Linked DNA regions of Homo sapiens: regions 1 and 2 are each linked to region 3. Evidence: fine-mapped expression QTL. A gene starts in region 3. Each other region holds a variant in brackets. All regions are shown on one strand. Distances are between the middles of the regions.

Region 1 (10,273 bases), 51 kb after region 3:
CACATTCCCACAGATTCATTCAGCATCCCAGCTCAGACCTTCTGCTAACACTTGCTATACCAGGCACGTGGCCTGCCTCCCCTCAGGAAGCTCCAGGCTCTCATGGAGTCTGAAGCCAAGCCTATCCTCTGGGGTTGGAGGAAAGCTGGGTATATCTGAGATCAGCACTCTGCAATCAAATTCTTTTTGTCTGTACTCCTGAAAAAGCAGCAGCCCCAAAACTGGCACCAAGTGGCTCCTGGATACTGGGAAGTCAGGTCTCAGGGACAGGTAGAGAAGTGGTACCAGCTGCTCATTGGTTGGTTGGCTGCTGGTCAGTGGGCAAGTGGTGGGGAAGAAAAACTGAACAGTGGGCCTTGGAGGGCCAGGGACTAAAGGAGGAGCGAGCTCTGGGAAACAAAGTGTAGCTCTTGTTGCTGCCTGCCCTTTCCACACAGCCAGCTCCCAGCTCTCCAGTTATTCACCAGGTTGGGGTGAATGAGAGCTTCTGACACTTCCTTGAACTTCAGGCTAACTTATGACACTAACAAAGACACCTTTAGGACCCAAGGGCAGACCTATGGGAGTACTGGGCAGTGTGACATGGGGGGAATTTGGAATCAGACAGACTTTGCTGTGTGGTCTTAAACAAATTACCCAATTTCTCTGAACTAGATAAAGTCCTTTTGTCTCATGATTGTCCTTTGAATGCAAGCAAAGCCAAAACTAGTGTTGGTCAACTTAAAAAAACAAGAGTATGAAGGAGCTCGTAGATTGATGGGGAAAAGGAGAGCCAGGACTAGGAGAAGGATGGACTCCAGGGCAGCTCGAGTGACTAGGCAGCAGGAACAGAGGCTGGTCTGTCTCTGGGTCTCTGCTGCCAAGATGGATGGACTCCAAGTTTCTCCCTTTTCTAACCCACTTCACTCTGCAGTCAAAGTCCTGGGAGAAGTGTCTGATTGTCCCAGCATAAGTCACATGCCCACCTCTTGGCCATGGGCGGGCAGGGCTTCTTCACTGGCAGATCGACCAAGGCTACACACAATAAGGAAAAAGAAATTTCTTCAAAAACCCTTTTTGCCTGGAGCTGAGCTGAGCGTTGTCAGAAGAAAATTATACTGAGTTCCACTGGGGTTGGGGGATGAGGGGCTGTGAGGTTGTCCATTGGGAATGGGTTGGGGAGAACCTTATTTGCCGTGTTTATTGGTCTATTCCCTACACCTAGAACACTCAGCACATTAGGAACTCAAAAAATGTTAAACGAACGGATGAAAGACAACCTTTGCATTTAAGGAAGGCCTTTGCGCTCAAAGAAGTGACTCTGATGGGAATTGCAAGCTCCTATGGCAGACAAGGGTGGAGAACTATTTGTCCTTTAAGTGCTTCTTAAGTCACATGAAGTCTGCTCAGCTCTGCAAAGTGGAATCGGCCCTGAGCACTGACACTGCAGGAAGTGATTGTGATCCAAGACTTAGAGGAGGCAGATGCCTGAAGATGATTGTGACCCAAATTCCTTAGACTGCGGCCTGAAGCTCTTCACCCCCTGGCTCTTGCCTCATTTCTTTCCTGCTTCTTGCTCCCTCCCATTCTGACCTCTGGCCATCTGAATGACTTGCAGTTCCTGGCTGCTTTATTCCACTCCCTCTCCTTCCAATTCCTAGTCTTTGACCAACCACTAGCTTTTAGGGCTCCACTTAAATACCACTTCCTCCAGGAAGCCTTCCTTGAACCAATATCCCAAGGCTGGACTAGCTGGCCCTCCTTGTGCTCCCACAACACCCTGGTTTACCCCAGTGGTGGATCTCACCACTCTGTGTTATAACCTCCTGTTTATTTTTCATTCTCCACATCCTTAGACTTGAGCTCCTTGAGTGCAGGCCCTGGTCCTTCTTGTGTCCTTAGGGCCTACCTGGCTCAGGGCCTGGCCCCTAGTAGAAACTCAGTAAATTTTTGTTGAATCAAAGAATTAATGAATGTGGTGTTAAAATCAGGACTCATTAAAGAGTCCTAGGGTGCAGTTCCTGAAATCTTCCATGTGCTTCAGAGGTCATTGTGTCTATAAGATGTTTCTCTCTCTGGTGTTTTCCTTAAACTATTTCTCATGATTGTCAGGTAATAATTATAAGATGAAATAATTTTAAGTTACTTCCAGCTCCCTGCCAGTAGCTCCTGGTTCTCAGCCCACTCTCTCACAGGACTATTTCCCTACTTTCCCTAATTCTTGCCACATGCCCTTCTATCCCACTGATTAACTACACATACCTTTGGTTTATACATACTGGAAGTCTTTTTTTTTTTTTTTTTTTTGAGACGGAGTCTCGCTCTGTCGCCCAGGCTGGAGTGCAGTGGCGGGATCTCGGCTCACTGCAAGCTCCGCCTCCCGGGTTCACGCCATTCTCCTGCCTCAGCCTCCCAAGTAGCTGGGACTACAGGCGCCCGCCACTACGCCCGGCTAATTTTTTGTATTTTTAGTAGAGACGGGGTTTCACCGTTTTAGCTGGGATGGTCTCGATCTCCTGACCTCGTGATCCGCCCGCCTCGGCCTCCCAAAGTGCTGGGATTACAGGCGTGAGCCACCGCGCCCGGCCTGGAAGTCTTCATCTTCTTTATTTACTGTGTGTGTATTTGATAGGACAGCTGTCTCAGTCATATAGTCAGTACTGAGAGAGCAAGTGCATCATGCCTTTCTTTGTGCAGAACTTTGTGCAGTGCCACAAGAGGAGATAATGATCAGAATTTTTTTGTGTTCAGTAGGACCCAGAAAGCGTGGAGTTTGCATGACCATAAACACAGGCTGCAACTAATAGAAAACTCTGAGAGTATTCCATTTCCCACTCAAAGTCTACCTCATTGTGTTATTCAGCCAGCTTTATCTCCCCAGCCAACCCAAGGCCATCCAGGACCACAGTGCGTCAGTGAGTTTTGAGTGAATAGGCTGGTACTGTTAGGACTGAGGGACCTCTTAGATGTCATATGGGAAAGGATTCAAAGGAAGGCCAAGGGTGAAAGGTCTCCCAGACTTTTTTTTCCCCCCAAGACACAAAGATGGTAGGTAGTAAGTAGAAACACCTGTGAGTTTTTGTTTTTTCTAGCTGGATCATGGCTGATACACCACCTGTGAGTATCTCACTTATTTGTGGACGTGTTCATTGTCTATGTCCCCTGCCTCCACTAGAAATGTAAGCTCCATGAGGGCAGGGACTTTGCTTTGTTTACTTTGTACCCCTACACTCAGAACCACTTCTGGCATATGCTAGGCACTCAATAAATACTTTTTTGAATGAATGGAGACTGCAGCATCCAAGGAACAGATAGGAAAGTGATGACTACATGAGGCAAAGGAGAGCAAGGTCTGAAGTTTATTCATACTAGGGAATTAGCTTTCGCAACAACAAAACAACAGTGAGCTGTTCAGCCTGTCTTTTTCTTTCCTGGATATCTGGGGCAGGGGGCAGTTAAGTCATGGCCAAGTCCTACCAGTATCCTCTGACCTCTGTGCCAAATCACGCTTCTGGATAGGAGACTGGAATCCTGGAATCTCTGGATGGGACACAGTGGAATCCCTGGGCCCTGAAAAGAGTCCAGGGGAGCTGTGCAAATGGTCCAGGGAAATATCCATCCATAGACATTTCCTACCTGTTCTCTGGATGCTGGAGTCTCCTATTCATTCATTCAAAAAATATTTGTTGAGTGCCTAGCATATGCCAGAAATGGTTCTGAGTATAGGGGTAGTAAACAAAGCAAAGTCTTTGCCCTCATGGAGCTTAAATTTCTAGTGGAGTCAGGAGAGACAGAAAATGAACACGTCATCCCCTCTGTGGCTCTTGCTGGAGCCCTGTGAAGCCTCTGTTGTGGTGGGGAATGGCGCAGCTTGCATTTGAACTTGCTCCTTTTCCTGAAGCTTGAAATTCACACGTCTGGCGCGTTGTTCCAGAATTTATAATGCAAAGTCTACATAAACATTCCTGTAACCCTTAATGTCCTTAAACTTGTTGCTTCTCATATTAGCTTGGATCTGCCTTTGTCCACTCTTGAAGGGGACGGTCTCCAGAATGATGCTTGCTTGGTGTTGGGGTTTGAGGACTCCAAGGCTGCAACAGAGAATGGAGCATGTCAGAAAACCAAAAGCATGATAATGACCCTGGAGCCCTTTTCCACCCAGCTTCCTGAGTGGGAGGGAGTGCTTCCACTTTCCCTTCCCCGGTGTTGTGGAGTCTGGCTCAGGAACCCATGTTCAGGAAGGATAGTGCTAATCTCAGGGGGGAAAAACAGGAGAAGGCTGAGCACTTGCAGCACTTACAAGACTTTCTGCTGTTTCTTGAAGAGGCCACTTCCTTCCACAGTCAGCACACAGTCCTCAACCTGCTCCGAGAGGGGGTTTGAAAATATCACCTGTATGGAGAGTGGCTGGTTCACAACGGCTGCTCCTAGAACCTAAACAGACCAGGAGGGGAAGGAGAATTAGTTCTCATTCCCCAACTCACCAGATATTTACGAAGGGCACCATTCTGTAAGGTGGCAGGATATGCCACCTCCAAATATGCCACTTTGGCATAAGAATTCTTTGAGCCGAAGACAATTGAGAAGAAGCAGATATAAGAAAAGCTCTCTAGTTTCCCTTTATTTGCCTAAAAGCAGGACATAAATTTACAAAGGTGTCCCCCCTCCCCTCTCTACCAGGAAGGACAAAGGCTGATCACCAGAGATGCCTTCAGACCTTTACGAGCCTGGAGAGGGCACCAGAGGAATCTACACAACAAACTTTCTAAGTTTTATCTACCATGAGTTTCCCATGTATTTGCCTTCCCAAAATTTGCCACCCCTTGAGACTCAAGGTCCTTTCCTTTTCTCTTGTCACTTCTCTAAAAACATATTGCTTCTTTGCTAAGATGCCACAAAAGCCCAAGTTCTAGCCAAACCTTCATGTTTCCCCACCGGAAGGGGCTCCATGGGCTTACTTAACAGGGTCTAGGAGGCTGGTTGACTTTGGGGAGACAGCACGGGAAGGAAGGGAGACCTTAAAATCTTCCCACTTGGAAGACCGCAGAATGTCAGAGCAGGCGGGGTCCTCAGAGGCCATCTAGCCTAATCCCCTCTCTAACAGTTCAAGAAACAGAGGCCCAAGGCCCTGTCCAAGGATACACAGCCAAAAAATGGCAAATCAAGTCTGAACTGACTTTCAGACAGGGCTCTCCCCCGACCAGAGACCCTCCCATCTGTGCTCACTTTCCTTATGTTGACCCATGGGGAAGGCCAACAGCAGGAGGGGCACAAGAGGGGGGTCTCTCCTATTGTCCATGGCACCTGCTCAAGGACCCATCCATAGGGCCTCTAGTGAGTGGTGCAAGAGGATGAAGATCTCTCAGACAAACTTCTCCCTCCTGGAGCACCAGAAGAGGCAAAGGAAGGAGGGGATGCTCTCCTAAGCAGGCCCAGGCTGCCCTCTCACAGGGCTTCACCCCCTCCCCGCCAGATCCAAGGAGCCCCACAAGCCATTTGCAGGACTCCTGCCTACATTAATCGTGATGCTTGGATAAGATAAGGTGATGATCTTGTTCACCAGGATTTTCTCAGGACTGCTTTTCTCTTCACCCAGGGCACTGATGCGGATCAGCTTGTCTGTTGACAGGTACTGGCTGTACTGGGAATAGGAGATTTTGCAGGGGTAGGTCTTTGCTAAAGAAAGAACACAAGGATGGGGTGAGAGTAGCTGAGAAAATCAGCCGTACCTGGGTTGGACCTGGGTCTCTCTTCCACAGAGAAGAGAAAGTCAACAAGTACCAA[A/G]TCCCAGGGAAGCAGGTGGCAGCTTTTTAGATGAGGAAATGAGCTGAAAAGAGCCAAAATGGCTGCCCAAGGCCATTCTGCTAGGAAATGGGAGAGCTGAGGCTCCAACGAAGGTCTCAGAGACTCCAAATCTCAGGCTTTTTCTGCAAAACCAGCTACTTTTGTTGTGGTAGGAAAGGAGGAGGAAGAGAAAGGAGGGAGAGAGGAGATACAACGAAGGAAGGAAGAGAGGGAGGGAGGGAAGGAGGGAGGGAGGGAAGGAAGGAAGGAAGGAAGGGGGAAGGAGAAGAGGGAAGGAGGGGAATCGTGCCAGAGGGGACAGTAGAAATGATGGTGTCTCAGGGGTCTGCCCCCAGAACCCTGTTGGCTGGCTTGACCCCACTGACATTGCCAAAACCAACTCTGCGTACACAAACTGTGCACATGCGTACCTTCTTTAGGAGAGAGTGTGATGAACGCTGTGTCCTGCCAGAATGGGGACAGGGGGCTGCCATCGTGCAGCAGAGACTGGGCACTCAGGTTCACTTTGAGGTCCTTGAACTGGGAGGACATGTTGAGGGCCAGCAGGACAAAGCATATATCCTGGCCCATGTTGGGCGGGTCGAGCAGCTTGAATTTCAGGGAGACTTGCACCACATCACTGGGTCGAAGGGAAGGTGTATGCAGGCTCCGAGGGCTGTCCTGGCTCAGTGATGTGGGCCTGGAAGGTTGCAACTCTGCTCCTCTTTGGGAGCCATGGAAGCTTCTAGCCTTCAGCTTCTGCAGAGCCTTCAGAAACACCTGCCTCTCCTGGAGGGATCCTGAAGTTGGGGAGAGCACAGCACCAGCTGTGAGCCAGGCTGACCGGGGTAGACTGAGGCTGAGCGCCATCCCCCACCCAATATCTCCACCAACAACTTCAGGCCTTCACTCCCAGTAACAAGCACTCCCTCCACTCCTCATGTGCTTTCCCAGGCAGGCTCTGCTGGCCACTTCACACCCTTCCTCCTGTATCAACCACAAGCAAGGTGTATTACCATTAGCATTCTTCTTCTTCTTCTTCTTCCATACACAGATAAAGAAAAGGAGGCTAATGGAAGTCATGTCACCTGCCCAAGTCACACAACTAGTAAGGAGCAGATCCCAGGTGGGAAGCAAACCTGCCCAACTCTAAAACCCGTGCCTGTGACCGCTCAACTCTATCCTGATCTCCTCAAGGGAAAGATGAAGGCCCACAAATGCAGAGAAATAAACCTCATAAAGACAGCAGGGCATGGTGTGATGTCCTGTTCCAGAGCCAGATTATTGGTCAGGCATAGACTAATTCCTGGAAACTAAGGGAAAGGAGAAGCACAGTAAATAAGTAAATACATATGAGAGGAGGTCTAGGCGTGCAGAGTTCCCAGGGTGGCCCCAGCTTCCCTGCTCTATCCTGGGGGTCCCTGTGGGCCGCATGTGCAGGAATACTTGCCCACGCCTCATAATTCCAGAAGCTGCTTTTGTTGAGTACTTACTATCCCCAGGGACCAGCTCTACCCCTTCAATGCATTTGCCACAACTTCCTGAGGCAGAGGCCACTTTTATCCCCTTGCTCTGGGGTTCATTCTAAGGCCAGTTCCAGACAAAAGAGAATCTGGAGACATTTGCTTCAGTAAGAGTGGGCCCACAGGCTGAGGGCAGTGGCTCACACCTGTAATCCCACCACTTTGGGAGGCCAAGGAGGGTGGATTACTTGAGGTCTGGAGTTCGAGACCAGCCTGACCAACATGGTGAAACCCTGTTTCTACTAAAAATACAAAAAATTTAGCCAGGCATGGTGGCAGGCACCTATAATCCCAGCTACTTGGGAGGCTGAGACAGGAGAATTGCTTGAACCCAGGAAGCAGAGGTTGCAGTGAGCGGAGATCATGCTGTTGCCCTCCAGCCTAGGTGACAGAGCAAGACTCTGTCTCAAAAAAAAAAAAAAAAAAAAGAGTGGGCCCAGGAAGATGGGAATCTGATTTAGCGCATCTGCGGTCTGTGCGACCCCAGACCCTGTCAGGCTGGGTGGGAGAAGACTGAATACTGCTGGCCTGAGGAGCACCTAAGCAGGACACTCAGGTCCACTCGGGTATGGCTCCAATCCCCCTGAGTCCACAGGGGACCCCGTGGGCCTCTCTAGCAAATGCCATCAAAGCCCTGCCCATATTCCCTTGGCACTTGCCATTTCAGTGTCCACAGGCCCTACTTTTCAAATTGCAGCCCCTGCAACTCTGTCTGAGGTTTTCTCTGCTACCAGAGCAGACTCAGCTCATGCATGGGGCAGGCCAGAAGTGCTAAAGAATTTACATCCCCCAGGAACAGCCCTCAACTCATGACCAACAGGAGTTGATGGATAAACACCCTAGCCCCTGTGACTCTCTGGTGTGATAAATCAGCAGTATTGTTCTACACTTCACACCGAATCAGTGATAGGGTTGCCAGATTTAGCAAACAAAAATACAAGGCAATTTAATTTGAATTTCAAATAAACAACAAATAATTTGGGACAGCCTTTTTTTTTTTTGTTTAGAAATGAGGTCTCACTCTATTGCCTAGGCTGGAGTGCAGTGTTGCCATCATAGTTCACTGCAGCCTCAAATTCTGAGGCTAAAGTGATCCTCCCGTCTCAGCCTCCCAAAGTGTTGGGATTGCAGGTGTGAGCTTACAGCTCCTGGCCTGGGACAAATTTATGCTAAAGCATTATTTGTCCTTTATTTTCTCTGACAACCCCACTTCCAGAGCTCCCAGCCAGCTGTCACTGTGCTAACAGGCTTGAAAATGTACTCTTACATCCACTTCCTTCCCTTCCCTGTCTCCCTCACTCTGCTCCAGGATTTCCAGGATAGCCTAAAAAATAAACCACCTGTATTTGAATGCTTGCCTCAGGATCCATTTCTGGGGCAGCCCAGCCAAGATGAGGCCGGAGGCCCCAGGGAGTGGGTGGTGATGGCACTGCTGGGCTGTGTTCAACACTTGCCCCCTACTGCAAATCCCCTTCCCAGGTGGGGAATTCTGGAGCCTCCCTGCGTCTGTCCCCGAGGCCCACGTAGACGAACCACAGACACCCACTCACCAGCACTCCCAGCAACTGCTCAGCCCTCCCCACCGCCCTTCAGCCACCCTGCCTTGCACCTGCTCAGATCCTCCCCAGCCAGATCCCAGCTCTGGCCCTCACCCTGCCTCTGGCCCTCATGGACTGGATATTTTTGCCTGGCTCCCTGGTAATTGAACCTAGTGGCTGGCGCTTCTCAATGTCCAGGCATTCATCTATAGCTGACTAACACAGCCTCCCCTGTGACCCTGCTGCCAGGGCTGTCACCTCAGAGTCAGCCTCTGGCCGTGCCGTTCCCACAGGGAGGAGTGGTGGGAGTGAACATCTGGGCTCACTTCAGCCTGTCCTCCAAAGACTCAGTGAAACACAGTGAATTAAATAATACCCTAAATAAAATAAATGAATGGCAGAGTGTTTACTAAATTCCCTGCCATCTTCAGTGGGAGGCTGATTTTAGGGGGAAGCAGGGGTGAAGTATTCATATTCTGTTTGGGCTCCACGGTCCATGTCAGCGCCTTGTGGCGGGAGCTCGCTGGCCTGCAGGATGTGGGGTGGGGGTGTCATGAAGAAGTGAGGCTGTGAGGCCACCCCAACTGGGGCCTCAAAACTGAACAGCTGAGGAGACAGTGGGGCTGGGTCCTGCCTCGCAGATGCTCTCTGGCTCCCTGGGGTAGGGGAAGGTTCCTGCAGGGCTGGGGCTCTGAGTAGGGCTGGCTTGCTTACTTACCTTCTTCATACTTGTAGTTCTCTGTGATGTCATCCCGCTCGTCACTCTGGATGCTCTTTGTGCTGATAAAATTGCCAACAGAACTCGTGTCCTGGTGAAGCTTCTGCTCCTTCCCTCCCTGGACGAGCCAGGACATGCAGTCAGCATTCACCATCGAAAACACAAAGGGCGTGTCATAGTTCAGGTCCACTTCTCCTTCTTTGATGGCTCTGACAGAGGCAGGGCCACAGCAGTAGACGCCTGAAGGAGAACAGGGGAGCCTCGGTGGGCTGTTTGTTGCAGGGCTGGGCAGGGGTGGGGTGCTTTCCACGGGAGCGGGGCCTGCCTTTCTTCTGGAGAGCCTCACCGTTGCTCATCTCCTGAGGTGTGGCGTCCAGCACCTGCCAGCCTCCATATGCAGGGGGCAGATCCTTCCGGGCCATCCAGCACTCATTCCAGACATGGAAGTTCCTGTGTCAAACAGAGCCAAGGGAGACGTTGTACTGCTTGGTCTTTCTAGAACAAGGCAAGGGAGGGATGAGCAAATGAACTGTTGGATAGAAAGACAGACTTAGCACACACAGGGCTTAAAACCTCTGTGGATAGCCAGGCACGATGGCTCATGCCAGTAATCTTAGTACTTTGGGAGTCTGAGGTGAGAGGATTGCTTGAGCTCAGGAGTTCAAGATTAACCTGGGCAAAAAAGGAAGATCTCGTCTCAAAAAAAAAAAAAAATTAACTAGGCATCATGG
Region 2 (10,462 bases), 400 kb before region 3:
CCTCCCAAAGTGCTGGGATTATGGGTGTGAGCCACTGTGCCAGGGCAAGTCATTCTTTTTCTTTTTTTTTTTTTAAAAGAAAGAATTAAAATTAGAAGAGTACTAAAATGTTGGGAGAAGGGTGAATGAAGTTAAAATGTTCTACAGTCCTTGCAGTATCAGAAAGGTAGTTAGGATATTGCTTAATTTTAGACTTTTAAGTTAAAAATAACTGGGAAATTTCCAGGACAACTACCAAGAGAACAGAATTAGAATGTTTAAATCCCCAGTAAGTACAAAGAGAAAACAGAAGATGAAAAATACCAACAAAATCTGTAATGAAAAGAAAGGCAGGAAAAAGGCATTAAAAAACTGAATAGAAATTTAAAAGAGAAACAAGTTCATATAAAAATAATTTGGCTGGGCGTCGTGGCTTGTGCCTGTAATCCTACCACTTTGGGAGGCTGAGGCGGACAAATCACCTCAGGTCAGGAGTTCGAGACCATCCTGGCCAATATGGCAAAACCCTCTCTACTAAAAGTACAAAAATTAGCCAAGCGTGGTGGCGGGTGCCTGTAATTTCAGCTACTTGGGAGGCTGAGGTAGGAGAATCACTTGAACCCGGGAGGCAGAGGTTGCAGTGAGCCGAGATCATGTCACTGCACTCCAGACTGGGTGACAGAGCGAGACTCTGTCTCAGAAAATAAATACACAAATACAATAATAATTCTAAATGTAAATCAATTAAGCTGACTAATTAAAACATAAAGACGTAAGATTGTCCACTTATACTCCACTTAACAACAGTCACAACAGAATGAGAAAAAATAGAAAGATAAAGGCAGAAAAAAGATACACCAGGCATGTACTACCCAAAAGAAAGTTGGCATAACTGTATTAACATCTGACAAAATAGGCTTTAATGCTAGAAAAAAAAAATAGTAGGAACAGAATAGAAATAGTCATTATATAAAGAAAAACAAAACTTTTAATCACCTGGCAGATGTAAAAACTCTAAACTTGTATGCACTTAACTCATGGATGAAAAAAATCATTACGGAAAAATATTCAGAACAGAATGAGAATAAAAATACAACACACCAAAACTTTTGCAATACAGTAACAGAGATATTCATTACCTTCTTTCTGCTTGTCTTAGCTTATTCTGCTGCTTCTTTTTCTACTTTCTTGAGGTAGGATTTAGACTATTGATGTAAAACCTTATCTTTCCTAATGTAAGTATTTAGTGCTATACATTTCTCTCTCAGTACTGCTTTAGCTACCTCCCCAACATTTTGATATGTTGTGGTTTCGATTTCATTCAATTCTATGTAAATTTAAAAAATTTTCCTTTAAGGCTTCCTCTCTGACCCATGGATTATACAGAAATATGCTGTATAATTTCCAAGTGTTTAGAGATTTTCCTGTTGTCTTTATGTCACTGATTACTAGATTAACTCCAATATTTTTAGAGAACATAGTATGTGTGATTTCAATTATTTAAACTTATTAAGGTTTGTTTTGTAGCTCTGCTTTTATGGAATCTAACCTAAGACAGCGGTTACCTCAGTGGGGATAGGGTAGAAGCATAAATATAGAAGGAATATGTTAAAATATTCTAGTTCTTAGGGCAGATGGTGGATTCACATGCTTATATTACTATGCTTTGACATGATATATATGAAATCTTTTATATATAGTATAAGTAGATTTTAAAAGATAAATATAGCTGTTTTGAATTTTTCTCCTAGATGACCAATAAATTCCTAAAGTTATAAGCTCTATCCATGCACTTTTTCATGTATATATGTATATATATTTTTTGAGGTGGAGTTTCACTCTGTCATCCAGGCTGGAGTGCAGTGGCATGATCTTGGCTCACTGCAACCTCCACCTCTCAGGTTCAAGCGATTCTCCTGCCTCAGCTTCCCAAGTAGCTGGGATTACAGGCACCCACCACCAAACCCTGCTAATTTTTGTATTTTTAGTAGAGACAGGGTTTCACCATGTTGGCCAGGCTGGTCTTGAACTCCTGACTTCAGGTGATCCGCCCACCTTGGCCTCCCAAAGTGCTAGGATTACAGGTGTGAGCCACCATGCCTGGCCCTCATGTACATATTTTTACTTATACTTCTACTTCAACCACTTCTTCCATAAGACATGTTCCCAACTCCCACCCCATCTGCATGCATTTTAATTTTTTTAAATGTTTTGCACAATGTTCTGTCTTGTATTATATTTGCTTGTGCAGCTACATATCTACCCAAAGAGACCGTAAGCTCCTTAAAGGTAAAAGATGTATCTTAAACTGCACAGCACATAGCTTAGTAAATTGTCTTCAATATTTAGCTTAATGCTTTATCCAGATGTTCAAAATGAGAGCTTGTAATGTACAGCACTATACATTATAAATTCAATAAACTGCACATCACCATGATGACAAATAATGGACTTAGGGTCAAAACTATCTACCATTCAAATTTCACTGAGATTAAATAGTGATAGTGAGTAAAAGACAGAAACCAAAATAACTAAGATCTTCCATGTCAAGCGCCACTTCATTCTCTCGCATACACGGATATCCATATGGGCTGACAACTGAGAATGTCACTAGTGATTTTTTTTTTGCTATAAGAACAGTTTGTTCCTGGTGCCATAAAGACAGCCACAGCTGATACTAGAAAAATCTGACACTGACTCCCTGTCTACTTTCCACTACTCATTCCTGATTACTATTCATCCAGATTGTGCTTTGTCAACAGCCAAATCACATTGTGGCATATCACATCGATCCAGAGATCATTTTGCAAATGACTCCCATGACTGAACATATACACCTGCTATAGTCTGAATGTTTGTGTCCCCCCAAAATTCACATGTTGAAATTCTAACTCCCAATGTGAGGGTATTAGGAGGTGGGCCCCTTGGGAGGTAATTAGGTCAAGAAGGCAGAGCCCTCATGAATGAGAGTGGTGTCCTTACAAAAGAGGCCCAAAAGAGATCCCTTTCCCCATCTACCACATGAGGACTCAGCAAGGAGGAGCCACAAAACAGCCCTCACCAGATACCAAATCTGCCTAGCCTTCCTTCTTGGACTTCCCAGCCTTCTGAACTGTAAGAAATAAATTTCTGTTGTTTATAAGGTACTCATACCTTACAAATTCCAAGCTTTATCTTGTTTTTGTTGGCATCCATCTCTTCCCAAACATCCTTCTCCTGGGGACGGGGGTGTCCCAGAGATCCAGGCAATTTATCTGGTGACACACCAACAGGGATGCCATTTTCTCCATCGCTAAGCTGTTCATCTGGAAATACCTCATCTGTATTTTCTCGAAGCAAGTCTCCAGGGATGGGAGTAGCATTGGCAATTCTACATATGAAGGGAGAAAAAAAAGGCAAGAATCAAAAATTACTATGAGACTATCTTACATCATTTTATTTCTTCATTTAAATGAACTCCACACATAATTAAGAGAGTTAAAAAAAAAAAAAAAGCACCTTGAAAACTTAGGTTGGCCGGGCATGGTGGCTTATGCCTGTAATCCCAGCATTTTGGGAGGCTGAGGCAGTCAGATCACTTGAGGTCAGGAGTTCAAGACCAGCCTGGCCAACATGGTGAAACCCTGTCTCTACTAAAAATACAAAAATTAGCTGGGCGTGGTGGTGGGCACCTGTAATCCCAGCTACTTATGAGGCTGAGGCAGGAGAATTGCTTGAATCTAGAAGGCGGAGGTTACAGTGAGCCAAGATTGCGCCACTGCACTCCAGCCTGGGTGACAGAGCGAGACTCCAGCTCAAAAAACAAAACAAAACAAAAACAAAAGAAAAAGAAAAAAAAAACTTAGGTCATGCCAATCCTACGAAATAAAACTTTAAAATTTTGATCAATTAGAATTTTCAAGCTGATTTTAAAATACAAAATCTAAAACAATAACACCCTAATTTGACAATCACTTTAAAAGTAAAAAGCATTTCATCTATTTTCATAGAAGTCTCTGTCAATTATAACAACATTTTTTTTCTTTTTTTGAGACAGAGTTTCACTCTTGTCGCCCAGGCTGGAGTGCAGTGACGCGATCTCGGCTCACTGAAACCTCCACCTCTCGGATTCAAGCGATTCTCCTGCCTCAGCCTCCTGAGTAGCTGGGATTACAGGCGCCCACCACCACACTGGGCTATTTTTTGTATTTTTAGTAGAGACAGGGTTTCGCCATGTTGGGCAGGGTGGTCTCAAACTCCTGACCTCAGGTGATCTGCCTGCCTTGGCCTACCAAAGTGCTGGGATTACAGGTGTGAGCCACGGCACCCGGCGTGTTAGAGAATTTTTAAAAATTCTAAACAGGAAAATGTTAAGTGCTGTTGAACTCCAAATAAAATACAGAGATGAATCTCCAAATTAACATTCCATTTGGGAAGCAAGAATGACAATTTGGGGCACACACATAGACTGAGTGGGTCTCTGGTATATCTAAAGACCAAAGGAGAGGTTGGGGGTTTTATTAGAGAGATGTCATATACTGTTTTGAAAGAAAGTTCATTGGCATCAGAGAAGCTTTTGGGAGCTGGCAGGCTCTGACTGGTGAGTGACAGAGGTATGTAAATTTAGTCTTGGAGTCACAGCAGGCCATTTCAGCAGCTGGGCTTGTAAGAAATTAAATTCTTGGAGCAGGTGCTATGTGCCCCAAGTACTTTCTCCCTGGCCTCTTGATTGATTTAGTTGACTATGACAAGAATGACCTAATTTGTATAATCAACTTTCGCAGTGCCATAATGAAATAAACAGGTGTCAGATCAATCAGCTATGTTATTTTTTTACAGTGTGAAATGTGTATTACTTTTTCACTTGCAGATTTTTTTTTTTTTTTTTTTTTTGAGACAGAGTCAAGCTCTGTCTCTCAGGCTGGGGTGCAGTGGCATAATCTCTGCTCACTGCAACCTCCGCCCCCGGGGTTCAAGCGATTCTCCTGCCTCGGCCTCCCAAATAGCTAGGATTACAGGCATGCACCACCATGCCCAGCTAATTTTTTATATTTTTAGTAGAGATGGGGTTTTGCCATGTTGGCCAGGCTGGTCTCGAACTCCTGGCCCCAAGTGATCCACCCACCTTGGCCTCCCAAAGTGCTGGGATTACAGGTGTGAGCCATCGTGCCCGGCCACTTGCAGACTTTTTACTAAGCACCTACTACATGCAAGGCCCTAGCAACACAAAGAGGAAGGAAATTCTTGCCCTAGAGGGGAAACTAGACTTTCTGTAATTATACAGTTGATATAGTTCAGCATGAACTGACCTGGGGGAAAAAATAGCAAATATTAATTGGTATTTGTCTATATATTTCTTTCAAAGTAATTCCAGGTCTTATTTATATGGTTGGTCATCGCTCCCTTAGACCCTCCCATGAGAGGCTTTTCTAGTTCACAGTTTTCCTTCACCAAGTGAAAAGGCTCCTGCCAGTTCTGTAACTCTATATTCTAGGGTTTTTTTTTTTTTTTTTAAATATTGCTGACTGAACACAATACTTAGCACACAATGAAACCTCCTCTTAGAAGTGACCTGGAATGTCTCAAAGTAGAAAAATTAGTCTTCAGTACATTATACTGACTCCTGTAATTACTGTGAGTGGCAACATCCTCTCAGTGAGCCACTTTAAGGGTCACAGTTAGATCCTGGCACTGGTGTCACGAGTATTTCATATGCTCTGAGAAGACCAGTGATTTTTCAGGGACTTGTTCCACCTGACTTGGTAACCGATGACCTTCACCACTACCTTTGCCTAAATGGATCAATGCTAGAATGAACC[T/C]CTTTATCAACAATTTACAAGGATATAATCTAGAAAAGCACTGATAATGGCTCCCCGAAAAAAAAGAAAGAAAAAAAAAAAAACTTACAACCTAGTAAAGTAGTATCTGTAGTTCTGACAGTGGAAGCATATTTAAAAGGTAGTTTGGCCTAAAATAGTTCAAATAGTTCAAATCAATAGTTCAGATTTATTATAGAGATAATTAAAGATCAGAAATAAACTGGCTACTAACAGATTTTTCAGATATTAGTTCAATATAATTTATTTATTGATAAAAGAGTCATAATGGACACTAACATACATGTACTACATGGTAATCCAAATGTTTATTGAAAGAATTCCCTCTATTCCTGAGGAAAGAGAAAGGGAAATAGATGAATATTTGAACTCAAGAAGCTTAGTCTATTATCGTCACCTTTTTTCCATTTTAATCACTCAGTATTCTTTCAAGTCCCTTTTTCCCTTATGTCTAGCCACTATTCTGCTTTTTTTCCAACTACCTCAATTCCTTTGCATTTCCTTCTTTCACACCTCAGGAAACAAACCACACCTCCATCTCTGAATACACTTCTACTTTCATTCAATCCTACTTTTTCTCTTATCTCTTATGCTTCAATATGATACCACACACTCCAAGGACCTCGTCCATCTTCTCCACACAGGCTCTCTTTTATAGGACTCAGGTTCCTCTCCCACCCAGACCCTCCCTCTGCATTTATTCTCCATTCCTTTCTCCTTCCCTGGTTATTGTTTCTTTTCCTAAACTCTGATCCAAATCTTGAGTATGCAATATGGAAAGAAATAATTCCTTCCCAGGAAAATTATATCATGTTCAGGAATATGAATGAGTGAGAAAGTATACATAAGAGTGTTATTAGCACATGGTCTGTGTTTCCAGGCAAGGTATTATATAACTGAAGCAGATTAAGGGAATAAGTAAGAAAATGTGTGGAAGAACTGAAGAGATATGAGAAAAAATAGTAAGAACGAATATCCTTTTCATATTTCATTCCCCATAATCTAAGGCAAACTAGTGCTTGTGGGCCAAATCTGGCCTGCTTACCTATTTTTTTTTAATAGACTTATTGGAACACAGTCAGTCTCGTCTGTTTACACGTTGGCCATGGCAGCTTTTGCACTATAACAGCAATGACAGTAGTGACAGAGACAGCATAGCTCACAGATATTTATCTGACCCTTTATAGATAAAGCTTGCTGGCTCATGATTTAAAGCGTCCTCTTACCTTCTAAACTTTCATTCTCCCTCTACGAAGAAATTCAGGGTTCTGGGACATACACTATAAATTTTTCTCTTTAACACTGATTCTCCAGGTATTCTACCATATCATTTGCAAACAGAAAAAAATCAGAAGTTGGCAAACTTTTTCTTAGAGGGCAGACAGTAATGGTTAGGCCTGTGGGCAAGATTCACTGATGGATGCTACAATTAATAGGAAAAGTATGACAAGAAACACAGTGCTGACATAGTTGCAAATATCTTCCCACAAGATTATTTCTTACAAAGAGAAAAACAGTAACTTTATAGTAGAAAGAACTGGCCACTGTAACCAAATTGTCAACATAAGTATCATCAGTAATGAGACATACTGACATTATGTACCTCCTTGTTTAATGCCATAGGTTTTCCTCTGATCTTTGTTCTAAAGTTATCTCATAGATTCTGATAAGTAGTGTTTACATTATCATTTTTTTCTATAACTTTTAGTTTTTATTTTCCTTTTCACCCAAGAGTACAGTCATGTATCGCTTAACAACGGGGATACATTCTAACAAATGCCATCGTTAAGCAATTTCATCATTATCCAAATGATCACAGCGTACTTAAAAAAACTATATTGTATAGCCTATTACGTGCCTAGGCTATATGGTATAACCTATTGCTCCTAGGTTACAAACCTGTACAGCATGTCACTGTTCTGAATACTGGAGGCAAGTGTAACACAATGGTTAAGTATTTGGGTATTATAACATTATCTAAACATAGAAAAGGTAGAGTAAAACTACAGTATTGTAATCTTATAGGACCACTGTCATATATGCGGTGTATCACTGATTGCGATGTCATTACACGGCACATGACTGTAGTTTAATAGGTTCTTAAATTTCCAGTAAAAGGGCCTTTGATATTTTAATTTTGTTGGTAATTTCTAGTTTTCTTGCAGTGTGATCAGATAATGTAATACTTCTACTTTATGGAACTACTTACATGTTTGTTTGTGACCTAATACCTGATCAATTTTTGTGAATGTTCCAGGGGCCCCTGGGCAGGAGGTATAGTCTCTATCATCAAGGTATAGAGTTCAGAAAACATACATATGATCTACCTTACTACGATCACGCTGTTTAAGTCTTCTATCTTCCTATTCTCTGTTCACTTGATCTGTCTTAAACTGAGGGTGGTACATTAACATCTCCAACTATGAGTGTGTTTTTATGTCTCCTTGAATATCCTGCAGTTGTTGTTTCCCAAAGGTGAGTGTCATGATTCTGGTGACTAAATATTAATAAATTTTGTATCCCACTTGTGAATTGTGGCATTTGGCATTAAAAAGTGCCCTTCCATCTTTTCTAAGTTTTTTGTTTTGGCTTGAATTCTACATCATCTGTTATTAGGATCACTTCTCTTTTCTATCTTTCTGATATATCTTTGTCCATCTCTTTCTTACTTTTTTTAGGTGTGTGTCTCTTATACACAGCATATGAATATAGCTATATAACCCAAACTGAAAATGTTTTCCTTTTAATAGGTGAGTTAACCCCATGTATATTTATTGCTGTGACTGATGTGTTTGGTCTTAAGTCTGCTGTAGTATTTTACTTCCTTAAATTGTATTTGAGCTTTGTAACATGATGTAATAGGATATACATAGACAGTAAAATGGTCATTACAGGGAAGCAGATTAACCTATCAACTCACAGTTACTTTTTTTGTGACAAAGAGCAGCTAAAATCTACTTATTTAACAAAAATCTCTAATACAATTTTATTTTTATTTATGTCCAAGACTTCTGAAAATACAATTTTATAAAGGTTATTCCTTATGCTGTCCATTAGATCTCCACACTTGTTCATCCCACATATCTGCTATTTTATATCCTTTGACCTACATCTCCCCATTTCCTTTCCTTCCTCCCTCCTTGAACCCCCTGTGGTAACCACTGTATCATTCTCAATCTCTGTGTATTTGAGTGCTTTAAAATATATATACGTGTGTGTGTGTATATATATATATATGTTTTTTGTTCACATATAAATGAGATCATGCAACATTTTTATTTCTGTCTGGCTTATTTCACTAAGCATGTCTTTTAGTTCCACCTATGCTGTGGCAAATGATAGGATCTCCTTCTTTTTAAAAGCTGAATAAGGTCGGGTGTAGCGGCTCATGCCTGTAATCCCAGCACTTTGGGAGGTTGAGGCAGGTGGATCACCTGAGGTCAGGAGTTCGAGACCAGCCTGGTAAACATGGTGAAACCCCATATCTAATAAAAATACAAAAATTAGCCAGCTGTGGTGACGCAGGCCTGTAATCCCAGCTACTCAGGAGTCTGAGGCAGGAGAATCCCTTGAATCCAGGAGGCGGAGGTTGCAGTGAGCAGAGATCATGTCATTGCACTCCAGCCTGAGCAACAGGGCAAGAATCAGTCTCAAAAAAATAAATATAGAAAAATAAAAAGCTGAATAATAGTCCATTATGTGTGTGTGTGTAAGTATTTATACATCATCTATATTCCATTGTGTGTGCATATATATATACAAATACATACAATACACACACACACACACACACACATATACATTTTCTTTATCAATTTGTCCATCAGTGGGTATTTAGGTTGTTCCTGTATCTCGGCTATGGTAAATACTGCTGCAGTGAACACGAGAGTGCAGATACCTTATTTGGTCAACTAATTTTCAACAAGGGCACCAAAAGGACACAGTGGGATCCAATAAATGGTGCTCTTCAATAAATGGTGCCGGAAAAACTGGATTTCCACGTGCAAAGGAATTGGACCCCTATTTTACACAATACACAAAAATCAACTAAAAATGTATAAAAGACCTATATGTTAAGACCTGAGACTATAAAACTCCTAGAAGAGAACATAGGAGGAAAGCTTTGTCATAGTATTTTATTATTATGTGCACAGTATCTTGCTATACTTGCTATATTTCTTCCTCTACAAGATGTATTCTTTGTCTATTTTTTTTTTTTTTGAGTCAGGATCTCACTCTGCTGCCCAGGGTGGAGTATAGTGGCGCGATCTCAGGTCACTGCAACCTCCATTTCCTGGACTCAAGCCATTCTCCAGCCTCAGCCTTCGGAGTAGCTGGGACTATAGGTGCACAACACCACACCCAGCTAATTTTTGTATTTTTTGTAGAGACAGGGTTTCACCATGTTGCCCAGGATGGTCTCAAACTCCTGAGCTCAAAGTGATCTGTCCACCTTGGCCTCCCAAAGTGCTGGAATTACAGGCATGAGCCACTGTGCCTGGCCCGTACTTTAATTTATAAATAATTTGGGGGGTGGGTATTTCAGAAGTTTTGCCTTTTTGTTCTAATGCTTATCTTTGGACATAAACCTTTTTAAATGCTCTTAGTTCTCTGTGAGTTTTTGTTTGTTTGTTTTGTGACGGAGTCTCACGTTGTTGCCCAGGCTG
Region 3 (10,436 bases):
ACCATATTTGGACAGATACTCATATTTATGATTAGAATGAAGATATTTTGATATTTCTTTTAATTTACTTTTGAAGTATTTTGATATACCTTTTTGAAGTTTGTACATTTGGACACTAAATTCCATAGAAAACAGAGACTTGATCATCCTTTGAACAAACCACTATCTTTCAAACCTATATAAAGATAAAATAGTATGGTGCTCTGGTAGGTGTGTCCATTGCTTTCAGTTATTATATATATATGTATATGTACATATATGTGCATATATATATGAGTTCGATATATTGTGATATATATAACAATTATGTATCTTATGATATATATAAAATATCTCACAACTACACCATTTCTTCGAACTCTCTGCCTTTTGCAATTCTAAGTGAACTGTCTCACCAGGATTCCTGCCAAATTCTGAATTTAAAGTGGTGTCATCTGTATAGTTACCATCTAACAAAGGATTTGCTGAATATATGGTAGATAGCCCATGAAAATCTTCTAGAAAATGTCATAAAGAAACTGAACTTTGCATGTGTTCACTGGGTTTTTCAACTTTATGTTTTTTAGAACCTTCAGGGTTTATAAATCTGACCTCATTTTCTCTTCATGTCTTGAGCAAAATAAACATCTTCTACTATTCTGTGTTGTTGTTGACCCTGTATACAGTGCTGGGTAAGTAAATTAGTACAGATTATGGGGAATTTTGCCAAAGAATATATTAACAATTTTGACAATAGAATTAGACTCTTGAGGGTATAACAAATGGCTCATGGATTCTTCATAAATCATTTTCTGGGACATGGTTTTGGAAAATAAAGCTCGTGCCTAACATGTTTAAAGGACATTTAGTTAACACCAAGTTAACTTAAGGGTGCTGAGAAGACTGCTACAGAATTAGTATTTGTGTAGAAACCTAATAGAAGCTTAAATAGCACCTCCTCAGAGCAACCTTCTTTGTCTATCTTAAAGTTTTAGTCTATATCTCATCACAGGTTTTACTTCCATCATTACCTTTATCAGAATTTATACCTATCTTCTGTGTTTATTATCTATTAACTCATTAAAATATTCACTGGTAGGCGGGTACGGTGGCTCATGCCTGTAGTTCCAGCTACTTGGGGGCTGAGGCGAGAGTACTGCTTGAGTCCAGGAGGTCAAATCCAGCCTGGGCAACACAGCAAGACGCCATCTAAAAAAAAAGTATATATATCTATCCATTGGTATTTTGCCTATTTTGCTTAGTATGTAGTTCATTGAATATTTACTAATGTGTGGCTCTCAAAAATTCAGCTCAAAAAAGAGAGAAACTGAGATGAGCAATAGTTCAGGCATATCTGCACTCTTCTGTTGTATTATTATACCCAGTAGTATCATGTGGCATATGACAAACATTTCAGTCAACAAGGGACCACATATACAGTGGTGGTCCCATAAGACTCTAGTGGAGCTGGAGGTATATAATAGACTATATCATGTAGGTTTGTGTATGATATGTAAGGACAAAATTGCCTAAGGACACATCTCTCAGAATGCATCCTCATGGTGAAGCAATGCATGACTGTACTTATAAAGTCACTTAGCCACACTTATAAAAGCAGAAATCACCATAAATCTTTTAGGCTTTTTTGCTTATGTTTCTTAGTGACTAAAAGTCAATTAGGAGTACATTAGCCTATTTGTTGCCTAGTCTTAGTCTTTATTTTACACTTTTATCCTCCCTTTGCACTTTGCTCATTAGTAACTCCCACCAGAGAACAAATGAAAATATAACACTTTATGATTCTGTGTAAGCTATGGCAGATCACCTTTGGAGGTAAGTTCTCTTGTTCAAGATAGGTTGAAGCTGTTTTTGACGCTTGTCTTACACAATGAGGTAAAGCAAGTAATTTGGTTCCTGGGCTGTAAAACAAAACAAAACAAAATACATTAATAGGGAAGAATTGTTCCATTCAGAAAGTTGAAATCTGAAGACAAAACACCTTTTTAGACTCATATGTCTTTAATGCAGTTTATATAAAGTATATCTGAGAAAATTGCCTCTGACTTTTTAAAGCTGAACCCTATTCTTGCCAGCAAATGATGGTATTTGCATTTTTTTTTTGAGATGTAGTCTTGCTTTGTTGCCCAGGCTGGAGTACAGTGGTGCAATCTTGGCTCACTGCAGCCTCTGCCTCCTGGGTTCAAACAATTCTCCTACCTCAGCCTCCCGACTAGCTGGCATTACAGGCATGTGCCACCACACCTGACTAATTTTTGTATTTTTAGTACAGACAGGATTTCACCATGTTGGCCAGGCTGGTCTTGAACTCCTGACCTCAGGTGATCTGCCGGCCTTGGCCTCCCAAAGTGCTGGGATTATAGGCATGAGCCACCCTGCCTGGCCTAGTATTTGCATTTTGCAAACGGAAATCTAACTGTCCCTTATCACTCTTGACAAACAACTTGACACTCTTATGGAGACCAGCACACTTACAAGACAAAATGACAATAATAATAATAATAATACCTAGAAACTCACACACTGAGAATGGGGCAGTAAATAATAATAGGGAGGATAGAAAAGTCAGCATGGCATTCCAGATGAGAAAACTGAAGCAAGTTAAACTTTCTACATGGTAACCGTGATTATGTAGTTGATATACAAAGTAATGACTGTGGGCCTTCAAGAAGAGGTTAAAATACATTCATTATATTAACGAGTGCATCTTAGAAAGATTTCTTTCAAAAAGTAGTTGAAGTTTTTTTGCTTTAAGGAGTAAATCTCAATCATCTGGAAATTTAACTTCTGTGGAATACCTCTTTACATCTTAAAGGAAATGTTAATGCATTATATTGAGGTTATTATTGCAATGGAATTTTCAAAAATGTGAGTGTGCTTTTTTTGTTTCTAGAATCTATAAGACACATATCTGTTCTAGGTATAGTGTCTACTAAGACAATTTCACAATCCAAAAAATAGTTGGTTAGCAAGGATATCAAGTACAACACAGAGACTAGCAAAGAGGGAAGGCTATGAAATAAAATGCTTATAGATGGCTAGTCTCATATCTCTGCTTTATTCCTATAAATGTATCTCATGATATATGTAATCAGAATTATAGTTATTTAATCTCCTCCTTTTTTGTCCATTGCCTCTTTTAGGTCCATGGTTTTTTGGTGAAATCATTGATGGCAAATTTGGTTGCTGCTTTTCCTTTGGGATATTTGTTAATGGACATTTCCTACAAGGCAGCATAACATTTATAATTGGAATTCTCCAGGTAAGAAGTCAGAAAAGCAATTTAAGAACATCTTGGACTTGTCAGACTAATTGCATAACAGTTATGAATTAAATCCAAAATCCAGAATTAAGTACCATAGATCATCTTTCCTACTTTACTTGCAGGGCAGTCTTTAATAAAAGCTTCATTTGCTTTTAAAGTGCTTCCTAAACTCCTTCCACCACTCTCATGTAAACATCTAAAATACATTTTTTTTTCCCCAAGACAGTGTTCTGCTGTCGCCCAGGCTGAAGCACAGTGGTGCAATCTTGGCTCACTGCAGCCTCCACCTCTTGGGTTCCAGCGATTTTCCTGCCTCAGCCTCCTGGGTAGCTGGGATTACAGGCATGTGCCACCATGCCTGGCTAATTTTTGCACTTTTAGTAGAGACAGGGTTTCACCATGTTGGCCAGGCTGGTCTCGAACTCCTGACCTCAGATGATTCACCTGCCTTGGCCTCCGAAAGTGCTAGGATTATAGGCGTGAGCCACCATGCCTAGCCTAAAATACATTTTTGTCATGAAGTGTTTATAAGAGGTGAAAGAAGTTTTTGTTGTTTTTGTTTCACTGTGCTTTTTCATTGACAAAAAAATGAAACAAGGGATTATGGTAGAAAAAGTTTTAGATTTCTGAGTAAACCAAAACTGATTATGATGATGAAGAAGGAAAATATTTTAGAGGGAGGAAACTAAAAAATAGACACATTAAAAAAATGGGTCAGTTATTCAGTGGAAACTGCATTATTCAAAAACCAGACCTGGGCTTTCCTAGCAATGTACTTGTTTAGGAAACAAACTGATGTATTAGGTTTACATTTGATTCCTTTAAAATAAACACACAAAGAACCTTGATCCATAGAAAAACTACATAAACAGATTTGAAAAGTATTTATCTAACAGTTTCTTTATTTTACTCACCTAATGGAGTTAGTGGACCAAAATTTGAAGTTTTGGAAGAGATCCAAAAACATTCAAAATAAGTTCATGGCCTTCTAACAGGGCAGTAGAACATGATCCAACAGGATTAGAGACAGCCAAGTAGGAAAGACTTCTGCCTAGCAAACACTGACCCAAGTCCAGAATATTCTCTGCATAGCAGCATTATATACATGAGTAGGTCCTGGGTTCATTTCAGTTTTCTTTTCTTTTCTTTTCTTTTTTTTTTTTTTTTTGAGATGGAGTCTCGATCTTGTCGTCCAGGCTGGAGTGCAATGGCATCGTCTCGGCTCACTGCAACCTCTGCCTCCCTAATTCAAGTGATTCTCCTGCCTCAGCCTCCCATGTAGCTGGGGTTACAGGTGCCTGCCACCATGCCCGGCTAATTTTTGTATTTTTAGTAGAGACAGGGTTTCACTGTGTTGGCCAGGATGGTCTCGAACTCCTGACCTCAGGTGATCCGCCCGTCTCGGCCTCCCAAAGTGCTGGGATTACAGGCGTGAGCCACTGCACCCAGCCTCATTGCAGTTTTCTATTATGTTGATGGAGGCTGTCTCTAAGGAGCTCTCTCATACCAAATGAATCCTGAGCCTTACCAAAAGGCAGGGTTTTTTCCTTTGTAAATGTTTACATTCATATTCTAATAAATAGTACACTAATAATGGATTTTATGTATCATCCAGACCCATGAATCCCAAATCTATATCTCTGATCTAGACCTCTTCTCTGCACTTCAAGTGCCTCTATATCCAATGGCCACAGATGTCTAACAGGCATCTCAACTTCATGTGATGTCTCTCTGATAGGAACATTATTTCCACCCCAAACCTGTTCCTCTCTGTTTTTCCAGTTTTAATAAATGACTCCACCATTCACCTGATTTCTCCAAGATGTATCCTCAATTATTCCCTTTCCTTCATACCCTGTATCTATTTCACCAGCAAGCTCTACCTTATTTGATCTGCTTCCAATGCATATCTTGAATCCATCCACTTCTCTCCATTTCTGTTTTCCTAATCTAAGTTGTAATTATTTCTTGCCTGGGTCTTCTCCCTGATATTCTTGCCTCCTTACTCTCAGCTTAATACAGAGCATCCAGTGTGCTCTTTTAAAAACTTTACAATCAGCTCACTTACTTTTCAGCTTGAAATGCTTTGAAGCAGAGCAGTGATCTGGGTCCTGCCGACTGCCCCAATTTCCACCTGGCTCATGCTCTGCATGCACTTCCTTAAAGAGGCCAAGACCTCTCCCACCTCTGGGCTTTTCATTTGTTCCTTCTGCCTAGAATGCACTTCCCTCCGCTGATTCATTCTTGTCCTTCTGGCCTCTGAGAGCCTTTCTCCCAGTTACCTTCTCATGACCCAGTTCTTTCCTTCATTGAACTAATCACGATCTGTAATTATATTTTTTGGTTTTTTTTTTTGTCTGTCTTCTCCCTGTTAGAATGTAAGCTCTATGACGGACCTTTTCTAACTTGTTTGCCATTGTGTCCCCAACTTGGAGCCTAGCTCATGCCTGCTACATAATGGGTGCTCAATAAATATTTGTTAAATGAATGAATCATACAGCAGCTCAACTTGGATTATAATTTAGATACTCTAATTTATATTCCAGTACTTATCATGCTACCTCAAACAAAAATGGAGGTAAGAAAAAAAATACTGATAGCCAAGTCCTCCCCTCACTCCACCAAAAAAGAGGGGTTGTTGTATGTGTGTGTATACATTTACTCAGTTCAATTCCAGCTTAACACCATTGGGTATTAACTGTGTATATGATACTGTACTACAAGTTGGGACTTCAGCATAAATTAAATGATACCTGCCTCTAAGATGAATAAAAGGACATGGGCAAATACACAACTAGCCACAAGTCAGCTGTTGTGTTATAAGCAACTGTGCTTGAAGTAAATTAGCTAACGCCAAGACAGATAGCAGCATAGTCTTAGGATCCACTAATAATGCATTATTAAGACCAAACTCTTCCAAGGACTTGGGAGTAAGCTATGGTTCTGTTCTTTTCCAGCTGGCGTTTTTTAACATCCCCTTGATGGCTTACATGTGTTGGAGCTTGCTGCAGCGGTGCTTTGGTCACAACTTCAGGTCTCATCTCCATCAAAGAAAATACTTGAAAATTATGCCTGTTCACCTACTTATGCTACTGCTGTACATCTGGCAGGTTTATTCCTGCTACTTTCTTTATGCAACATACGGCACCCTAGCTTTTTTATTCTCCCCTTTGCGGACCTGGTTGACACTGCTGACACCTGTTCTCATTCGTTATGTGTGGACACTGAACTCCACCAAGTTTGGAATCTTCATGGTGCAGTTAAAAAGCCACCTGAGCTCCTGAAGGCCATGTCTCACCACTGGCAGCTGGGCAGAAGCCCAGCCTCTGTGTCTGTAGCCCAGGCCTCTACCCCAGTAGCAGGTGGAGGGCCAGGATTGGTGGGTGAGCTTTAGGGAGCAGCTGCTCGTTTGGAGTCCTGGACGTTGGAGGGATTACCCACTACTGATACCTGCAGAATGGACTGCAGAAAAGTCTCAAAAATAATGCCTTTATTCCTTCCCTCCCTAAGGAGGCAAAGAGTTGATTTACCTTTGTGAAGAGAAAACCCTTATCTAGGACATCCACAGGGTAGAGGTTGGGTGTGTGTACGGGAGTGTCTGAGGCCCAGTGTGTTTTTTAGGGTTACCCCATGTAAAGCACTTACCGCTGTGCTTGGAATTCAGCAGCTGTCAAAGGTGCAATTTCAGGGGCAGGGAACCTTTGAGGATCTGGGCCCGACCCTCACTACCCCTGAGATATTAGTTCCCAGGCCTGTTTTCCCACAGGATTGTGGGCTCTCTGCTTCCTTAGTCGGAAGTGTTTTCAACTAATCAAATAAATGAATGAATGATGAATAAGAAAGACGGTGAGCCTGAGGCTTGCTTGTGTAGCCTGGCCTAAGGGGCAAGAGAAGGCGTGGCCTGTCCTGGCCTCTGAGAGTGGGATGGTTGGTGCTGTACCTCAGGGGACAGGGCGGGGCGGGAGGAGGCGGGGCCAGGCCTGGTCTCTGATAACGGGATGGGTGGTGCTGGACCTCGGGCGGGGCCGGGCCTCGTGGCGGGAGGAGGCAGGGCAGGGCCTCTGGGACGGGGCTGGACGGCTTGTTGACGGAAACGAGCCCTTGACGCTGTGGCCCGGAAGTGGAGCGGCTGTCGCAGTGCGGCTCCGGCAGTGGCAGCGGAGGCCTGTGTTTGCGGCCTTCGGCAAGCGACTGAGATGGCGAGCGCAACTGCACCTGCAGCCGCAGTCCCCACCCTGGCTTCGCCTTTGGAGCAGCTCCGGCACTTGGCGGAGGAGCTGCGGTTGCTCCTGCCTCGAGTGCGGGGTGAGCTGACGGAGTTAGAACGGGCGACGGCAGGGGCGGGCTCGGGGTCGGGGAGAGGCCGGGCTCGGGGTCGGGGAGAGGCCGGGCTCGGGGTCGCGGAGAGGGCGGGCTGGGGCGGCGGCGGGGAGCCGGGCTTGGGCGAGGGAGGTGGCTCCGCTTACCTCAGCTTTTCCATTCGCCACCGTTCGGCCCCCACACGCCACACCCACAAGTCGGCGAAGCCCAGGAGACCACCGAGGAGTTTAATCGAGAGATGTTCTGGAGAAGACTCAGTGAGTGCGCCTCCTTCCGGGCTCCCCTTGCCTCAGTTCCTCCAGCGTCCCGACCCCTTTTCCTCCCGCTGTCCCCCACGGAGGGGACTGCTCTCCCCCGCTGCATCCTTTCTGTGAGGTACCTTACCCACCTCAGCACCTGAGAGGGTGAAATAGAATTCTAACCTCGACATTCGGGAAGTGTTTTTGAGAAGTCTCGGTCGGTAAGGGAAGTCTTCCAAGTCCGTGCAGCACTAACGTATTGGCACCTGCCTCCTCTTCGGCCACCCCCCAGATGAGGCAGCTGTGACTGTGTCAAGGGAAGCCACGACTCTGACCATAGTCTTCTCTCAGCTTCCACTGCCGTCTCCACAGGTGGGCTTCACTTTCGTGGAATCCTTGGGCTGCCGAGTTACACCTTAGGAATCCTCTAATTTTCTTTCCACCTTTTGCACGCACGCCAGGAGATTTCTTTTCTTCATCTGTCCAGTGAGGTTACCGTTTTTACTTCACAGGATTGTTGTGAAGACCGAATTGCCAAGTGCAGTTCCTGGCGCGGAGTAGGCAGGTCTTATAAATATTGGTTCAGTCTGAAGTTTATCCTGGTTGTTTCCCTTCTGATAATTTTTTAAGCACTTTTTATTTGCTGGGTGTTTTCACATACTTGATGGCCATCTGACAGATGAGCAAGGAGGCTCAGAAGCTCAGCTTAAGATTTAAAAAAAAGCAGGGGGGCTAGAATTTAAATCAAGGTCTATCTGATGTCTAAGCTACCTATTCTGTTATACTGCATAATACCCTTTTTATATTATTTTTTATATTTAATCAGTAACATATGTAGATAGTACAAAATTCAACAGATATCAAAGTGTGTTAAGTTTACCTTTCCACCCACTTTCTCATTTTTGTCTCCCCCAGTTCCTTTTGCATTATTCCACGTATATTCTGTGCATATATACATTCATATACATTTATCTGTATGTGTCAGCTTCTTTTTACACAAATGATACATAAACACTGTTCTGGACCTTCCAACTTAGAATTACTGCAAACAGTGTCGTGATGAATTACCTAATTCTGTGTATGTGTGTATATTGGTAGAAAAAATTCCCGGAAGTAGAATTGCTAGAACAAAGATTTATGCATTTTAAATATTCCTTTATTATAAAACTAATGAAAGTAAACATGTTGGCTATGACCACGTATGCTCTATGCTCAGTTTTTCTAGAGTTGTGTATGCTTAATATAGGAGTAAGATTCTTTTAAAATGGCATATTCATTGCCTTATTTGATTTTCATAGTCAATTGTTTTAATTTTTCAGTCTACATATATAGGTGTTTGGAAAGGATATAAATATCTTCTGCTGCATGTACCTACAGTGATAAACTCTCTCCTCCTACATACCTTTGAGATTTTTTTTTTTTTTTTGAGACAGAGTCTCTCTCTGTCACTCAGGCTGGAGTGCAGTGGCACAGTCTGGGCTCACTGCATCCTCTGCCTACCGGGTTCAAGCAGTTCTCCTGCCTCAGCCTCTCGAGTAGCTGGGATTACAGGCACCTGTCACCACGCCTGGCTAATTTTTGTATTTTTAGTTGAGACGGGGTTTCACCATGTTGGGCAGGCTAGTCTCGAACTCCTGACCTCAAGTGATCCGCCTGCCTTGGCCTCCCACAGTGTTGGGATTACAGGTGTGAGCCACCGTGCCTGGCCTACCTTTGAGATTTGTGATGAGGAAACAAGAGATGAATTGTATGAGAGCACTTCAAAAGATTCATGGAAAATACTTATTTCAAAAAGAGTAGTTAATATTACCTTATTTTTCTTATCTGCTAACCCCTTTCTTTCAAATGCACTTAGGACTTGCTGCTAAAACTCACTGCAAGTAAGATACCACAAGGAGGCAGCATAGAACTGATTTTCTATACATGCTCAGGACAGTAGTTTCACTCATAGATGAAAAGTTAGAATTTGGATTTATTTGAAATATATACAAATATTCAAGTATATACATATATTCAAATAAATACATATATGTATATATGTGTGTATATACACACATACATACACATGAATCATCATTGCCTTCTTGAGATCTCACCACTTTAGTCCTACTAAAAGATGGGTGGTTGTTGGTTTTTTTTTGTTGTTGTTGTTGTTTTTTAAATTCCAATCTGTATGGAATGATACTTTAATAAAATTATGTGCTCGGATGTTGAATAAATGTCAAATTGCCATAAAAGTTTCTAAACACTCTCAGTCACTGCTTATCTCATCCCTGACTGGTCACAAACAGTTTGTAGACTGGCTCCAACCTGGACCACATTTGTATAGTATTGACTTAGAATTTAACAGAAAATTGAGGACAAGGAAGATGAGAAAGCCAGTGACCACCTAGAAGGAAAATAGTTAACATGGAGCATTGTCGAGTCCATGCTAGTTACCTTTAGTTACATATTCTGATTCTGTTAAAAAAAGAGAGAGACCTGGTTAATGGTTTAATAACCATGGTCTGTCAGTTGGTCTGTCTGTCTCTCTCCCTCCCTCTCTTTTCTGTAAAGGGCCAGTTAGTAAATATTTTAGATTTTGTAACCAACTACCCAACTCTGCCCTTATAGAG

Evidence for each region. PIP is the estimated chance that this variant, and not a neighbour inherited with it, causes the effect.
Region 1: its variant is fine-mapped to the expression of CCNDBP1 in whole blood (TOPMed, PIP 0.99).
Region 2: its variant is fine-mapped to the expression of CCNDBP1 in whole blood (TOPMed, PIP 0.98).

What each region holds. Positions count from the first base shown.
Region 1 is chr15:43,229,275-43,239,547 of GRCh38, forward strand. It overlaps TGM5 (transglutaminase 5), which reads right to left. Exons shown (of 13, transcript NM_201631.4): 8 at 9,889-9,992; 9 at 9,543-9,782; 10 at 6,195-6,563; 11 at 5,495-5,655; 12 at 4,280-4,413; 13 at 3,316-4,070. The coding sequence ends at 3,917. Among named protein-coding and RNA genes, the nearest start is that of EPB42, 13 kb to the left of the region's middle. The variant A/G (reference allele first, on the strand shown) is at 5,764.
Region 2 is chr15:42,780,287-42,790,748 of GRCh38, forward strand. It overlaps TTBK2 (tau tubulin kinase 2), which reads right to left. Exons shown (of 15, transcript NM_173500.4): 11 at 3,133-3,349. Among named protein-coding and RNA genes, the nearest start is that of TTBK2-AS1, 46 kb to the left of the region's middle. The variant T/C (reference allele first, on the strand shown) is at 5,778.
Region 3 is chr15:43,178,041-43,188,476 of GRCh38, forward strand. It overlaps CCNDBP1 (cyclin D1 binding protein 1), which reads left to right and starts at 7,363. Exons shown (of 11, transcript NM_012142.5): 1 at 7,363-7,567; 2 at 7,780-7,839; 3 at 8,114-8,193. The coding sequence starts at 7,459. It overlaps TMEM62 (transmembrane protein 62), which reads left to right. Exons shown (of 14, transcript NM_024956.4): 12 at 567-671; 13 at 3,141-3,259; 14 at 6,220-7,104. The coding sequence ends at 6,546. LOC124903478 (a long non-coding RNA gene) reads right to left here and starts at 7,847. Exons shown (of 2, transcript XR_007064604.1): 1 at 7,729-7,847; 2 at 1,675-1,898. RefSeq lists silencers at 7,089-7,388, 7,609-7,698 and an enhancer at 7,869-7,968.